4 linked regions of the Homo sapiens genome follow. The protein of the gene in region 1 interacts with the protein of each later gene in a pairwise test. Each region holds a gene or a part of one and is shown in the gene's direction. Other genes may lie near its edges.

Region 1 (3,500 bases):
AACTCTTGTCTTCCTCCTCCCATAATGCTGTCACCTCTCTACCCCTCCCCAGGACAAAGGGGCATCTCATTTGGCCAGCCACAGAAATACCCCAACGTACCTATTCTCTTTACTTGGACCTAGAAGACTTAGTGGAGAAAGAACATAATCTCTAGCAGAACTTGTTCAATTCTCACTTGAAGTCTAGAGGGAGGAAAAAGTCTTATAACAGAAAAAGGAAATAAAAATGGAAATCATCAAATAGGATGGCAAAAGTCACTTATTAAGAAAAAAAAAAACTCCTAAGATTAATCTTATTAATACTCAAAGAAAAAAAGTATGAACTAGTCAAAATTGAAGTGAGATTTTTGTGAGAGAAATGTGTCATATTAATACTGAAATATACCTAGTTAAATGAATTCATGAGAATAGCAAGGAAATATTGAAATAGAAGGGTAATGACTATGAACTAGTTTTACTAGTTATTAACATTTTATTTATTTATTTATTTTTGAGATGGAGTCTCACTCTGTCACCCAGGCTGGAGTGTAGTGGTGTGATCTCAGCTCACTGCAACCTCCGCCTCCCAGGTTCAAGTGATCCTCCTGCCTCAGCCTCTTGAGTAGCTGGGATTACAGACATGCGCTACCATGCCTGGCTAACTTTTGTATTTTTAGAGATGGGGTTTCACCATGTTGGCCAGGGTGGTCTCAAACTCCTGGCCTCAAGTGAACTGCCCGCCTTGGCCTCCCAGAGTGCTGGGATTACAGGTGTGAGCCACCACACCCGGCCTGTTAACATTTATTATAAAGCCACAGTATTTAAAATGATATGGTACTGTTACCAAAATGAGTCAGTGGGACAAAATAGAAAAAATCCAAAAATAGATCTAAGTCCCATGATGATTAAATATATGATAAAGATAAAGGCAATACTTGAAATCACTGGAGAAAATATGGATTATTTAAGTATGTTGTTATGACTGCATAAGCATTATTAAATATAATAGATATTTACCTCATTTTGCCAAAATCCAAATAGATTATAAAAGTTCTGATGTGAAAAAAATTAAATAAAAATACTAGAATAAAATTTAGTTGAGTCTTTATATAGGACTGTGGAGAATAAACCATGAATAGAAAGTTTGATTAGTTTGACTGCTTATACTCTTCAATTTGTGCATTCATGCCAAAACAAAATAGAAACCCCTTTCCCTGCCCCACTGCCAGCACAAACTTCAAAAACAAAATGAGAAAAAAAAAGAACAGATGATAAGTTGGGAATAATGTTTGTACCAGAAATGACAGATAAAGGGTAAATATGTGTAGTATAAAGGGACTTCTAAACATCTTAAGAAAAATAGTGATATTAGGTTGGTGCAAAAGTAATTGCAGGTTTTGCCACTAAAAGTAATGGTAAAAATTGTGATTGCTTTTTTTTTTTTTTTTTTTGAGATGGAGTCTTGCTCTGTCCCCCAGGCTGGAGTGCGGTGGCGCGATCTTGGCTCACTGCAACCTCCGCCTTCCGGGTTCACGCCATTCTCCTGCCTCAGCCTCTCCAAGTAGCTGGGACTACAGGTGCCCGCCACCACGCCCGGCTAATTTTTTTGTATTTTTAGTAGAGACAGGGTTTCACTGTGTTCTCGATCTCCTGAACTCGTGATCCGCCCGCCTCAGCCTCCCAAAGTGCTGGGATTACAAGCGTGAGCCACTGCGCCTGGCCACTGTGATTGCTTTTGCACCAACCTAATAGAAAAATAAATTGACACTAAATGTCAGATATTTTAGAAAGAATTCATGTTCTATGACCATGAAATCCTTTTCTTGGAATTTATCCTCAGAAATTAATAGTGCACATTTGTAGATATTTATGTATAAGCTCTTTTTCCCAAAGAATTGTCTATAAAAGCCAAGGGGGAATAAAAGAGACAACAGAAAGAAATGAAGAAAAAGGAAGAGAAATCGAGAAAAACAGGGAGGGAGAAGGAAGAAAAGAATGAAGGAAGGAAGGAAAAGAAGAGATGAAAAGAAGAGAAGGAAGGAAAAGAAAGAAGAACCGTAAATGTCCAACAATAGGAGATTAGTTGAAGAAATGTTACATTGTGAGAGCTGACAGCTAGTCAGTAACTAAAATTGAAAGATATTCACCCTAGCTTGTACAAGAAGAATCTTTTATGAAAACAACTATATGTAAATATATGCACAAATATAATCATGAAGACATCTGGAATCTGAAAGCTAGCCCAGTTATCTCTGGGGTAATGGTTTACAGCTCTGACTTTTCTTTCTCCACTTTGCATACATGTATTTTTTGTTTACAATTAGCATGATTTTGTTTTGAAAAAAATGTTTTTGATGTTATTCTGGGACTAGATGTCAGTAAATATTCTTGTCTGTAAATTCTGGTCTGTAAATATTCTTGCCTTTCTTGTCCTGGTTTCTCTCCTCCCGGCCCTTGTCCTGCCCATTAACTAGGAAGATCTTGCTGACCACCAAGGTCCTCCCTACTACCCTCTCCCCAGAGCTCCTGAACCATGAGTGATACACACTTCATATTTGTTCTTTAAAAGATTTTTGGCCATGCACAGTGGATCACGCCTGTAATCCCCACACTTTGGGAGGTTGAGGTGAGCAGATCACTTAAGGCCAGGAGTTCGAGACCAGACTGGCCAATATGGTGAAACCCCACCTGTACTAAAAATACAAAATTAGCTGGGCGTGGTGGCGCATGCCTGTAGTCCCAGCTGCTTGGGAGGCTGAGGCACGAAAATTTCTTGAACCTGGGAGGCAGAGGTTACAGTAAGCCAGGATCGCACCATTGCACTCCAGCCTGGGCAACAGAGCAAGACTCTGTCTCAAAAATAGATAAATAAATAAATAAAAGTTTCTCGTGTATTTTCTAATCCCCACAAAGAAACTGTAAGCTCCCAGAGAGAAGGAGGTGGGCCTGTGATTCCTCTGTCGCTCCCTTAGGGCTCCAGGTGGAGCTGACTGGCTGCTTTTGGGAGATGGGCTGGGCACGACTTCTCTGCCTGGGAGTATTGAAAAGATAGACTCTGGGCTCATGGGGTTGGCGCAGGCAGCTGGGAGAGCTGAGGCAGCCAGAGACCACAAACGGCACCGTGAGCTGGGTGGAGCTGGCCTTGTGGGAAGGAAGCAAGGCCTGCTGTTAAGGGTCTCTCTGAGCTTTTCCACATTTCCAATTTCCCATGGATAATCCATCATGTTCATCTGTACTTTTTGTCTCCATATCATGTGGACAGGTTCTAACATTCCCATGGACCAGCCCTGCTGTCGTGGTCTCTATGACTTTGAGCCAGAAAACCAAGGAGAATTAGGATTTAAAGAAGGGGACATCATTACATTAACCAATCAAATAGATGAAAACTGGTATGAAGGAATGATACACGGAGAATCGGGATTCTTCCCCATTAATTACGTGGAAGTGATCGTGCCTTTACCTCAGTAAATGTGTAACACAAACTCTGGACATACTTTCGTAACTGAAATGAATTCACACCA
Region 2 (3,995 bases), on another chromosome or scaffold:
AGGGCACAGCTAAGGCACAGTTTTGAGAGAAGGGCACATCCTGGAGCTGCAAATGTGTGAGTGCTGGGTTAGGAGGACGGATCTTCAGATGAGACTAATGTAGAGGGGTCCACATCAGGTAAGTTCCTAAAACGAGAAGCTGCCTTATCCCTCTGTTGCACGGCTCAGGGTCCCATCATAAAGTCTAGAGTTTGCTAAGCTGAAATGTCCTCTGCACTCAAGGACAAACGGAGTTAAGTGCAATTGTTTACAGTCCAAGAAAGCTCGCTGGCTGGTTTTTTCCTGGATGGCTGAGGTCACTTCTCAGTGACCTACAAGTCACGTCCACGTTTCTATTCTGCTCGGTGCGCTAACCTAAAGAAGAAACCCAACGTTTACTTGACTAACTTGATAATCAAGCCTCCCCCGCCGGGACACTTAATCTTTTAGGTACCTTCAGCCTACTAGACCCTGGTCCGAGGCACGGGTTCAGTCCTTTTTTTTTCCGTATTCTATTTTTCCCTCACAGTTAAAAAGTACTTCACAGTTAAAGGCGGCATTTTAGAACTGCAGCGTGAAGCCAGAGCGTTTGTCTTAGTGACCGGCCAACTTTCGGGCTCACTTTCGAGCTCTGTGGTACACCACCATTCTCAGATTCGACGTCTAACTCAGGAGACGCTGACCTTCGAATCGAAGGGAATTCGGAGAGTCTTGGTATAAGCCGGCTGGTTCACCGCTGTTAATGCCAGCCGAGAGGGAAAAAAAAAATTCAACCAACCAAAACAAAAGTTAAAAGCGCCACTCTTTCTATTCTTTGCTGTCTGGCAATCTCTTAATGGTGGCGTCTAGCAAACTGCAAATCAAGCTCCAGCCGGAGTCCGCAGGGCAGGGAGCGCCGGGTGCGGCCCAGTCCCCGCGCCCAGCGCGTTGGCGCGCACACCCCGTTTCTGCAGACTCAGGTTTTCTGGCCCCGCCTCTTTCGGGCCCAGCTGATCTCCACCGCCCGTTAGGCCCGAAACCCAGGCGCCTGGAGCCCTGCGCCCTCTGCTTCCGGCCCCCGGCACGCCCAGGGCGCGGGAGCGGCCGGGTCAGCCCGCAGACCTGAGTCCGGCCCGCAGCCTCGGGGCCCCGCGGGCGCAGCGGGGCGGGAGGCGGGGCGGCCCGGCCGTGGGCGGAGCGGCGGCCGCGGCCGTGAGCCTGCCCCCAACTCGCCCTCAGCCGGCTGGCCGGCGCGGCCATGGAGGTCTACATCCCGTCCTTTCGCTATGAAGAGAGCGACCTGGAGCGGGGATACACGGTAGGCGCGGGCCGCGGGCGGACAGGGCCCCGCGAGCCAGGCCTGCGGCTGCTGCGCCCAGGAAACACCCTTGGCCGCCGCCGCCTTGGCGCAGGGGGTCCCCTCGTTTTCTCTCCCCTCCCCCGGCCCAGAGGAAGGGCTGCGCCCTTGGCGCGGTTGTCAAGGAAACGGGCGCCCCTCCCGGGCACGGCGGCTGCGGGCGCCCCTAGCCCCTCGGGGTCCAACCCTCTCCTCCCGGACGAGCTGCAGTCCTCGGACGCGGCACTAGCCATTCTCCCCGCCGCCCGCCTTCGGGAGCCCAGGATGGGCTGCGTTCCTTTCTGGCACAGCTGCCCCCTCAGTCCAGACAGTAGTAGCTTCGCGGCAGATTCACGCTGGCTTCCAAGTTCTGTACAATTAGTTCAGCTGGAAAACCTGTTTTTTTTTTTTAAATCATAATTTGCAGCTGTTTATTAGCCAAACTAAACACGTGTATTGATTTTAGATGATTTCCAAAGATTTTTCTTTTTGAGTTGTGCAGTTCCATGAAATGGCAAAATTACTTGCTGAGCACCTGTTTCATACCTAGGACTGTGGTCACCGAGAAGTGTGAAACAGGACCCCTGCTCTCAAGAGTGAAGGGGAGGGCAGAGACCAGGGCATGGGCCCTTTGAGCAACACGTTTACTAAGTGAATTGTTGGTGGAGATTTCCCAATGAATTCAAAACATTCTTTCCTGGACAGTCATTGCTAGTGGGAGAAATGTCTGAGTGTGTGTACACCTTGGAAGAATTTACTTCCAGTTGTTAAAGAACCTGTAGGGTTGAAGAAAGATTGCAGGGCAGTCTGAAAGATTTGTTATTTTATTTACATCAATCACACACTTGCTAAACACCAGTTACATTACTTTGATGGAGAATATTTTAACCCCTCTCCCCTCCTCTAAATATTACTGGTATTTGGTGACAGTCTGTTTGGGCCATTGTGTTTTCTTAGTTGGGACTAAATTACCCTCTCAAAGGAAGATTTAGAATGAAAAACAGTGATTGAAAAAATAGTCCAGGAAGTCGGTGGGTTTTTAGAATTGAGTAGACTGCTGGATCCAAGTGTTCTGAAACAAGTTGTTAAAGTGCTTTCCTTGGGAAGGAAAATGCAGGGAGAGGGAGCTGTGTTCCATAGTGGTAGTTATTTATATAAATAATCCTTTCCAGTGCATTCACATTTCGTTAAATAGTCTGTATCTTCCTTAAAAACAAACAAACAAACCCTCGAGTTTGTTCAAGGCTTTTTTTTTTTTTTCTTGGAGATTTTATCCAAGTCTCTTAAGCCTAAAACCTTGCTTGTTGTTGCTTCTCCCAGGTATCTCACTTCTCCCATCAGCACTATCAACAGTCATGGAGGGCTTACCATCTTTGGGACATTCATTTAGGATCTGAAGATAAAAAGGCTGCTTGTTAGAGGCGTTGGCTTTCAAAGAAAAGATGAAGTTGATCTTACCGGTTCAAGCTAAAAGTTAATTACCTGCAGAAATAAGCACTTTGAAATAGACCATAATTAAGGCTCATTGCCCATTGTTGATTTTCTTCTATTAGACGAGCTGTGCTTTTCTCCCAAAGCTTTATGTATCTTTTTATTATTTGTATTTATGACCAGGCATGTGCCACACTCCAGGTTGTGAATTAAACTGATGTGGAAGGAGCTCTTTTTTGGACAAATTCGGGAGAGTTTGAAGATTGCTTATGTGATGAGAGTTTGCTCTTTAAATATTTGCTTAAAAAAAATCCTAACTCATCCAGATTGGGAGCTAAACTGTTAAAATCTCTCTCTCTCTTTTTTTTTTTGAGACAGTCTTCCTCTGTCACCCAGGCTGGAGTGCAGTGGGGTGATCTCAGCTCACTGCAACCTCTGCCTCCTGGGCTCATGTAATCCTTCCACCTCAGCCCCTGGAGTAGCTGGGACTACAGGCACATGGCACCACTCCTGGATAATTTTTAAATTTTTTGTAGAGACAGGGTTTCTCCATGTTGCCCAGGCTAGTCTTGAACTCCTGTGCTCAAGCAAACCATCTGCCTAGGCCTCCCAAAGTGCTGGGATAACAGGCATGAGCCACCACACCCAGCCCTAAAATACCTTCTGAAGGGATTTTTTTGCTTCTGTGAGTTTGTGAAGCAGTTATTAGATACTTTTCCCCTCTGCACAACTGGTTTTATGATTGTACAGCGGTTTTTCATTCAACAAATATTTACTGAGTGCCTGCTCTGTGTCTGTATTCTGGGTGTAGGGAATATAGCAGTGAATAAGCTATGAATATAGCAGCTTAAAAAAAACCCCAGAATTTAAAAAATATTTCAGTTTCCTAAATAAGAAGCTTGTAAAATAATGTACACTTTCGTGTAAAAAATATCTTTTTACTTTAGCGATTATGTTTGTGTGAATGTGTGTTTTTAAGAGCTAGGATCTTGCTCTGTCACCCAGGCTGGAGTGCAGTGGCGCAATCCTAGCTCACAGCAGCCTTGGACTCTTGGGCTCAAGTGATCCTTCCCCCTTGGCCTCTTGAGTAGCACAGGCATAAATCACCACAACTGGCTAATTTTTGTATTTTTTGTAGAGATGGGATCTCACTATATTGCACTGGCTAGTCTCAAACTCCTAGGTTTAAGGGATCCTCCCACCTTGACCTCCCAAAGTGCTGGGATTATAGGCGCGGGCCACTGAGCCCGACCTGTGTTTGTGTTTAAAA
Region 3 (4,231 bases), on another chromosome or scaffold:
GATCACCAGCCTGGATGGTGTCAGCTGGTGCATCAGGATGCAGGGTCTGAAAAATACCTTGAGCACCAATTTAGGTTTTACAATAGTGATGTTATCCCTAGGAACAGTTGGGGAGGTTGGAATTGTGTGGCCTCTGGCTGCATGACTCCTAAACCATAATTTCTAATGTTGTGGCTAATTTGTTAGTCTTACTAGGGAAGTCTGCTCCCCAGGCAAGAAGGGGGTTTGTTTCCAGAAAGGGCTGTTATCCTCTTTGTTTCAAAATTAAACTAAGCTAAATTCCTCCCAAAGTTAGTTTGGCCTACAACCAGGAATTAACAAGGGCAGCTTGGAAGTTAGAAGCAAGATGGAGATGGTGAGGTCAGATCCCTTTCACTGTCATAACTTTCTCACTGTTACAATTTTTGCAAAGGCAGTTTCACAGGGCAGATGAAGATTTACTTAAATGTCTCATGATGGTGATGATGGTAGCTAATATTCATTGAGCAGTTACTATGTACCAGATATTGTTCTAAGTGCTTTAAATAAATTAGCTTGAAACTATCATTCTCAGCAAACTATCTCAAGAACAAAAAACCAAACACTGCATGTTCTCACTCATAGGTGGGAATTGAACAGTGAGAACACTTGGACACAGGAAGGGGAACATCACACACCGGGGCCTGTCATAGGGTCGGGGGAAGGGGGAGGGAAAGCATTAGGAGATATACCTAATGTAAATGACGAGTTAATGGGTGCAGCACACCAACATGGCACATGTATACATATGTAACAAATTTGCACGTTGTGCACATGTACCCTAGAACTTAAAGTATAATAATAATAAAAAAAAGTAAAATACAAAAAAAAAGAAATAAAAAAATAATTAAAAAATTAGCTCATTTGGCATTCACAGTAATCTTACAGGGTACCTACTATTAGTATCCTCATTTTAGCAATGAGGGTTAGGAAAAGTTAATTAAGTTTTCTAAGATTGCACAGTTACTAAAACTAGAATCTGCATGCAAACCCAGGCAGCCTGACTCTAGAGCCTGTAACCTTCAGCACCACCTCATGTCGCCCCAAGTTCATGTTTTTCAGGGGCCTTCTCCCATTTCTCAGTCATTTCCTCTCTCAAGAGAGGAGGAGAAGGAAGGGCCAAGAAGACAACATTGCTGGTGCCTTTTTTATTTATTCAGTTTACCTAAATTCTCTCATCATTACCAAATGACACATACTGTGAGCCAGGTTGAGACCCATCTTTTCTTAGTTTTATCGATATCTGTTTACTTAACCACAAAGATAACTTTTTTACTCCCAAATTTGAGTGATTAGTAAAGAGCTACATAATGTAACCAGTTTTGCTTTTCACAAGACATCTCTATTTCTCAGTGGGCTGAAAACCACACTTTTGCTTCCTCTTTACTTTGCAGTGAGAGCACAGCATTTGTCACTCAACCTCTGAATGTTAGTGACACTATTGGGACGAAAAAGGACTGTGCTGGCCCAAATGGCAGGCATCTCATATGTGGCATCTTTCTTTCTCCTTCTGAGTAAGTTTCATAATCCTTTATGTTTCTCTTGTCACAGGAGTTCATCAACTCAGGGTGCTGAGTGATGGAACAGGACAATTTGGTCTCTACAGGAACAACTATGCCATATATTTCTGATGTTAGCAATAATTTTTGACTTACTAATGACAGTTCTTGGCTTACCTAGACATCCTTGAGTTCCAGGGAGTCACAATGCTTGGTTGAGTCCCATGCACAAGATTCCATTGGTTTTAACATTTGTGTGTGTTGCCAGATCTGTCAGTTTTGCTTGGCCCTGGCTTTACTCATCTTCCTGGGCCGATCATCCCAAGAGACAGTAAAAAAGCTTTGTGTCCCAAACTGAGAGGAGACCTTAAGGTTTGCCTGATATTAAGGCTTGATGGGATAACTATGCCTTGCAGATATGACTGGATGGAAAGAAAGGTTATGAAAGTACTTAGTAGTTTTAGACTATGCTAAAAGAAGGTTCTAGATTTCACCTGCGAGTGGAAGTGGAAATTGACTACTGAGAGACTGAGAAATGAACAGGAAGATTCACTTGGCTCTACTGAGGGCCATGCAGAGGGGCTTGCCTGATCTAGGGGCATTTATCTATGTTTGAATAGGATGGAAGAAGAGAAAATTTGGAGGTAGAAGGGAGAGTCAGATGAGTTGAGCAGGTAATGGAATAGTTTCAAACCAGATAGCAGGTACTTTTTATGCTACAGTTTTCATTAACATCTGGTAAAGAGAATAGACTCCATCTCAGAATAATGTTTAAAATGCATAAAATAAAATGCATAGAATTACAGAGGAAATCAGTCACATTGAAATACAGGTATCAAAATATTTTAAATAAATTATAATGCAGTAATTTATTTGCTTCTTATTTATGCATTACATAACAAAATCTACAGGTAGGTCTTTTAACCACCAAACTTCAAAGTAATGATGAGTATAAATAACATTTCAATATATCTTAAGTAGTTGTAATGTGATATGAAGATATCTGTGGTTGTCTACATACATAACTGAAGAAAATACTAAATTTCCATTAGAGGCAAAAATGAAAATAAAGATGTAAGATTATTTTTCACCCTAGTTTATGGACCCTTTAATCCTACATGTGGACCCAGTTAAGAACTCTTGCTTTATAGCTGGGCATGGTGGCACATACCTGTGGCCCTAGCTACTTGGGAGGCTGAGGTGGGAGAATCGCTTGAACCTGGGAGGTGGAGGTTGCAGTGAGCCAAGATTGAGCCACTGCACTCCAGCCTGGGTGACAGAGTGAGATTCCATCTAAAAAAACAAACAAACAAACAAAACTCTTGCTTTAGAGAGACTGGATGGAGCCAGTGCAGGGACCCGAATGGCTGGGATGATTGGGGAACTAAACCAAGCTGCATTTGGTGTGACCAGGACTATGGCTGAAGAATTAAAAGAAAAGAATACAGCATTCAGCACAAAGAGGTTGCTTAATAAACATTGATTGAGTTGAATTGTGCTCATGTCTCTAGGTACATATGATAGTGTGAGGTTAAGAGTCAGACCTAGGGCCTGCAGGGGAAGTTACTGGGACCACTTGCTGGGTGACGGATGCCTGCCAGACTGGCTTGGCGGGTGTTGATGGATAGGTGCACTGGTGGGATCCTTTGGGGGCTGGTGTGTTTTTGTTGTTTGGTTAAGTTGTCTGAGTGTGATTCTCAAGTGTATGTGCTTTGTGTATTTGAATTCTATGTTTGCTATGTATATAGGAGGAAACTGGGTTTACATTGTGCAATAATTCATAGAATTGCAAATTCTGTCTCTTTTTTTGGTAAGCAGGCTAGAAGCCCTGGGGGAAGGAAAGTAGTAATCAAGGCTCAAAAAGGGGAAGCTGGAAGCTTTTCCTTAACCCATTTAAACAATTACCTAAACTGGGTTATACATTTACTTCTTCTAAATTCTGACTCATCTGAAGCACTAATTTTGTGTAGAAGCACAGTTTTTATGTGAAGAATACATAAATCAGGAAGTTACTGGAAAAAGCTTTAGAAGTCTGCTGTTTGTCCTTACAAATATAGAGGGGAATTGAAATAAATTATTTAAATAACGATCTATTGATCAATTACATTGGTTAGCAAATTTACACTTTGTCCCAATTTTTTTTTAGTAAATATAAGGACTGAACAATCCTGATAGAAAATGGTGCCATATGAGATTAATGTCATGGGTAAATGAGTTCTCGGATTTAGCAGTTAGCTTTGTCTGCTTGATCTATTTCCCCCACCCAAACTAGCTGCCCTACAAATAATGGCCATTAATATGGCAGGGTTTGGGGGAAGGGCTATTGTCTGTCTTACTGAGTTTGCATTCATGAAAAATAAAAAAGATTCCACTTAGTATGGATGGAAGCTATCTCAGCCTCCAAGCATATAGGGTTTTTGAATGTGAAAAGAGAAAGAAGCTGCTTGTTATGTTGGCTATTCCTGAGGTAGGTTTTGTATAAGGTAGCATTATTTGAAACTGCTGTTTTTTTGGTATAAAAAGTGCTCAAGTATGGACCATTTTATACAGTTCAACCTAATCGTTTTCATTCAAATAATACTGCAGTGGTAAATTTGACAATTCCAGTGATATTTTTAAAGAAAGTCAATACCATCGAGGAATTTTTGGTGTTTTGAAAGCATGATTCTAATGTTAGTATGTCAGTGCCAAGCTTTGTACTCATCAGCCAACAA
Region 4 (4,082 bases), on another chromosome or scaffold:
AGTTGGGAGTAGAGAGAGTAGGAGCCAGGCAAAGACCCAAAGAGAGAGGGAGAAAATACCACAAGATGCATAGAAGGAAGTGCAAAGAAAGGAGAAAAGAGAGACAGAGATATACTCACAGCAAGGTGCAGAGACATGGAGACCCTATAAGAGATGGAAATGGAGAGCCACAGAGGGGGAACTGCGGGCACTAAGAGAGACATGGAGAGAACTAGAAAGATAGAGACGTGAACACAGACACAGAGACCCAGAGCCAAAAAGAGACAGAAATGGGGTCATAGGTGGACAGAAATGCACAGAGAGACTGTGAGCCCCCACAGACACAAACGCTGAGAGGGGCAGACATGCAGAGACACCCACAGAAATGCAGAGACAAAACCACCCGGAGACACATGCCGAGAAACACACTGAGGGGCTCAGAAAGCGACAGATGCAGAGAGAGCCCAAGACAGACCCAGCAAGGGGCCCCGAGAAATGCACAGAAACACAAAGACCGAGACCACCAGAGACAGAGGTACGGAGAGGCGGGGAGGGTGAGGAAGCCTGCTCTCCAGGGCTGGCTTGAACCTAGAACTCAAGGTCATGGCTTGGCTGGGAAGCGGGAGGGGGATACCAAAAAAGATCAGCGTTAGATGGAGGTGGGGAGGGAGGGTAGGTTTCACCCTAATTGACACCCCACCCTCCCCCTCCCCCTCCCCACACCTGCTTCCCGGCTTTAGTGCCTGTTGTCACCAGGATGGAATCCTGGCGGCAGACAAAGGGGTGGGGGTGGGAGGAGGAGACAAAAAGATGGACAGAGACAGAGGAGGAGACTAAGAAGTAGAGACAGACACACAGAGACACACAGATGGAGAGCCACAGAGACAACAGAAATGGGGGTCCAGAAAGAGACCTAGATAGAAAGAGGGAACAGAGAGAAGAAAACAGGAAACATTCCTTATAGCCCATGTGTCATTAGTAGGTCCTCCAAGGACCTACTGTGTGCCGGGCATGGGGACGTCAAAGCACAGGGAGCTATAAGGGAGGTAGTTGGAGCACCACGGGAGCCTGGGGTGTGGGGTGGGAGCAGGGGCGGGGCTCCTGGGCCATGCAGATGGGGTTGGCATGGGGTTGGGGAGGGGCCCACGGAGGCTTCTGGACTCTGAGTGTGGAGCCAGGGGCAGCAGGGCTGTCTCTGAACTCCCAGGCTTGTGTTTGAGCAAAGGAATTCTCTCCCCCTCCCTCTCCCCTCGGGGCGGGCCCGAGCCTCCAGCTATAAACTCCCCGGAGCTTCAGTGCCCTCAGCAAGGCTCAGCCTCAAGATTCACAGCATCTCAGACACAGCCTAGGTAAGGGGCTCTGCGGAGCCCTGTGGTCTTCAAAAACCATGTCCTTGGGGGAGGGGGCAGGAGGCAGGTGGGGAAGATGTCGGGTGTGGAGAAATGGTGCAGAGGTAGGTGGGGCATACAACTGGAGGTCTGGGAACTTGAGAGGCTCAGACTTTAGGGGGACTCAGGATAGAGGGGAAAATACTAGGATTTGTGGGTTACACAAATCCTAACCCGGGGCTGCCAGGACTTGGATGTCCCAGAATAAAACCTCCTAGGATCTTGGGGTTCTGGGAATCTGGGGGAAATCTCAGCAGTCAGGGATATCTGGACTTGGAGGTCAAACAATCTGGGTGTCAGGATTTGGGGCCTCAGACTCTGAGGGTATCAGGAATTGGGGGGGTCTCAGAAGAAATTGGGGTTTTGGTAGTGGAGGGCTCGGAATCTGAGACATTATGATAGAAAGCATGAAAACTTAGAGTGCCATTATCTGGGGTATCATGAACTGGGCCTCCGAGTTTGGGTATCAAGATTTTGGGGGTCTCATATTCTTGAGGTTTCAGATTTTAGGAGGTCTCAAGACCTGGGGGTGGTCTTAGGATGTCCCGGCCCATATCTGGACTATCAAGAACTGGGATTTCAGAATCCAGAGCTGTGAGGACTTGCTGGCCTCAGAAACACGGGCATCATAAATCGGGGTCTCAGAATCTGTGGGTATTGGGATTTGGGGCTAGGCACCCTGTGGCCTAGGGTGTCTCAAAGACTTTGAGGTCTAAGAATGTAGGGGTCAGGGTGAGGTCTACGGACAGAAGGTGCCCTTTATGCCCCTGCCCCCTACGTGATGTATGGGAAGGTGAAAGGGGAGACAGGTGGGGAGGAAACCAGCCAGTGGGGTGGGGCGAGTGGGAGAGGGGATGCGGGTGACTAATTCTCCCAGAAGCCCCCCTTCCTCAAATCCCTTCTTAGGAAATGTCCTCGGTTTCACCATCTATGACATCCCCCCAAAATAGCTCCTGGGGGTGGGGCAGCTATTGTCTTCAGGCCACTGTCCCTTCTCAAATGCCTCTTCCTAATCCCAACTGGATCAGGTTCCCATGGACTTGTCATAAGACAAAAGAGGACAGCTGTGCTGAGGGGGCAGGGTCTGCAGCCTCCTGGCTGTGCCAGGACCACACCTACCAAGGTCTGTCCTCATGCATGCTTTAGGACAGCCGGCCCCCTCCCTCAGACCCAAGAGTCCAGACCTGAGCCCTCCTCCCTCAGACGCAGGAGTACAGGCCCCCAGCCCGCTCCTCCCTCAGACTCAGGAGTCTAGACTCCCAGCCTCTCCTCCCTTAGATCCAGGAGTCCAGGCCCCAGCTCCTCCTCCCTCAGACCCAGGAGGCCAGGCCCCCAGACCCTCCTCCCTCAGACCCAGGCGTCCAGGCCCGCGGCCCCTCCTCCCTCAGACCCAGGCGTCCAGGCCCCTGGCCCCTCCTCCCTCAGATCCAGGAGTCCAGACCCCAGCCCCTCCTCCCTCAGACCCAGGTGTCCAGGACAACCCATCTCAGTCTCAGGAGTCCACACCCACCCTCCCACACACCCCCCAGCCCCTCCTCCCTCAGACCCAGGAATCCGGCCCCCAGCCCCTCCTCCCTCAGATCCAGGAGTTCAGGACCCCAGTCCCTCCTCCCTCAGACCCAGAAGTCCAGGCCCCAGCCCCTCCTTCCTCAGACCCAGGAGTCCAGGCCCCAGCTCCTCCTCCCTCAGACCCAGGAGTCCAGACCCCAGCCCCTCCTCCCTCAGACCCAGGAGTCCAGGCCCCCAGCCCCTCCTTCCTCAGACCCAGGAGTCCAGGCCCCAGCTCCTCCTCTCTCACACCCAGGAGTCCAGACCCCAGCTCCTCCTCTCTCACACCCAGGAGTCCAGACCCAGGAGTCCAGGCCCCCAGCCCCTCCTCCCTCACACCCAGGAGTCTAGGTCGCCCCCTCCTTGGGGCCCCACCCCACTGGGCCTCTTCTCTCTGGTCCTTAGGCCGCACCAGGATGTCGGACACCGAGGAGCAGGAATATGAGGAGTGAGTGCTGCACTGGGAGGGGTTGGGGCGTGCAGTGGTGGAGAGGCTCTCCCACCCCAGGTCTAACTCTCCCCTCCCTCCTCTCTCCCCACACCCGTCCGCAGGGAGCAGCCGGAAGGTGAGTAGGGAGTGGGCCGGCCCTATGGGATGGGGACACGCCCAGGAGCTCTTGGGAGGGGAGGCGAGGAGTGTGGCACTTTGGCGGGGAAGGGGCGGCTCAGCCCTCGGGCCCTCGCCCGCCCTCTCCGGGTCTGGAGCGTCTCCTCGCGCCATCCCTGCACCGCCAGGGGGAACGTGCCCATCGCAGCCGAGGCCAGAGGGACCCCCGTCCAGCAGAGACTGGAACCCTGGTCTCTGGCCACCGCCCCCATCCCTCCCCCAGCTCCTAACGCCTTCTCTTCTGTGCCCCCATCTCCAGAGGAGGCTGCGGAGGAGGAGGAGGAAGGTGAGGTCCCGGACTCCGCAGGTCTGGAGCTGGGGGGTGGGGGGGCGGGGACGCTGGGCCCGGGAGGAGGGGGCGGGATGGGGCTCCCGACGGCCTCGGCTCCCGGTCCTCTAACAGCCTCTCACGTCTCTTCCCTCTCTCCCCTCCCGCGCCCGGGCGTGGCCGCTCCCCCCTCGCTCCCCAAACCCTCGCTGCTCCTCCCTCCCCTCCCCAGCCCCCGAAGAGCCGGAGCCGGTGGCAGAGCCAGGTAACCGCGGCTGCTTCGCTTCCCGAG

What was found. Proteins that work in one complex are often made in the same cells at the same time.
Region 2: the proteins of SH3GL3 (region 1) and SNX24 interact in a two-hybrid assay, tested with the Homo sapiens proteins (one large-scale study listed by IntAct).
Region 3: the proteins of SH3GL3 (region 1) and CD101 interact in a two-hybrid assay, tested with the Homo sapiens proteins (one large-scale study listed by BioGRID and IntAct).
Region 4: the proteins of SH3GL3 (region 1) and TNNT1 interact in a two-hybrid assay, tested with the Homo sapiens proteins (one large-scale study listed by BioGRID and IntAct).

What each region holds. Positions count from the first base shown.
Region 1 is NC_000015.10:83,614,841-83,618,340, forward strand, and holds part of SH3GL3 (endophilin-A3), read left to right. Parts: intron 1-3,241; coding exon 3,242-3,447; 3' UTR 3,448-3,500. UniProt on the Homo sapiens protein: Implicated in endocytosis. May recruit other proteins to membranes with high curvature.
Region 2 is NC_000005.10:122,844,418-122,848,412, forward strand, and holds the start of SNX24 (sorting nexin-24), read left to right. Parts: upstream 1-1,195; 5' UTR 1,196-1,216; coding exon 1,217-1,276; intron 1,277-3,995. UniProt on the Homo sapiens protein: May be involved in several stages of intracellular trafficking.
Region 3 is NC_000001.11:117,000,329-117,004,559, forward strand, and holds the start of CD101 (immunoglobulin superfamily member 2 isoform 1 precursor), read left to right. Parts: upstream 1-1,431; 5' UTR 1,432-1,444; coding exon of another isoform or gene 1,445-1,489; coding exon 1,490-1,532; intron 1,533-4,231. UniProt on the Homo sapiens protein: Plays a role as inhibitor of T-cells proliferation induced by CD3. Inhibits expression of IL2RA on activated T-cells and secretion of IL2. Inhibits tyrosine kinases that are required for IL2 production and cellular proliferation.
Region 4 is NC_000019.10:55,146,407-55,150,488, reverse strand, and holds the start of TNNT1 (troponin T, slow skeletal muscle), read left to right. Parts: upstream 1-1,282; 5' UTR 1,283-1,328; intron 1,329-2,395; exon of another isoform or gene 2,396-2,490; intron 2,491-3,320; 5' UTR 3,321-3,331; coding exon 3,332-3,363; intron 3,364-3,467; coding exon 3,468-3,481; intron 3,482-3,781; coding exon 3,782-3,808; coding exon of another isoform or gene 3,809-3,829; intron 3,830-4,022; coding exon 4,023-4,055; intron 4,056-4,082. UniProt on the Homo sapiens protein: Troponin T is the tropomyosin-binding subunit of troponin, the thin filament regulatory complex which confers calcium-sensitivity to striated muscle actomyosin ATPase activity.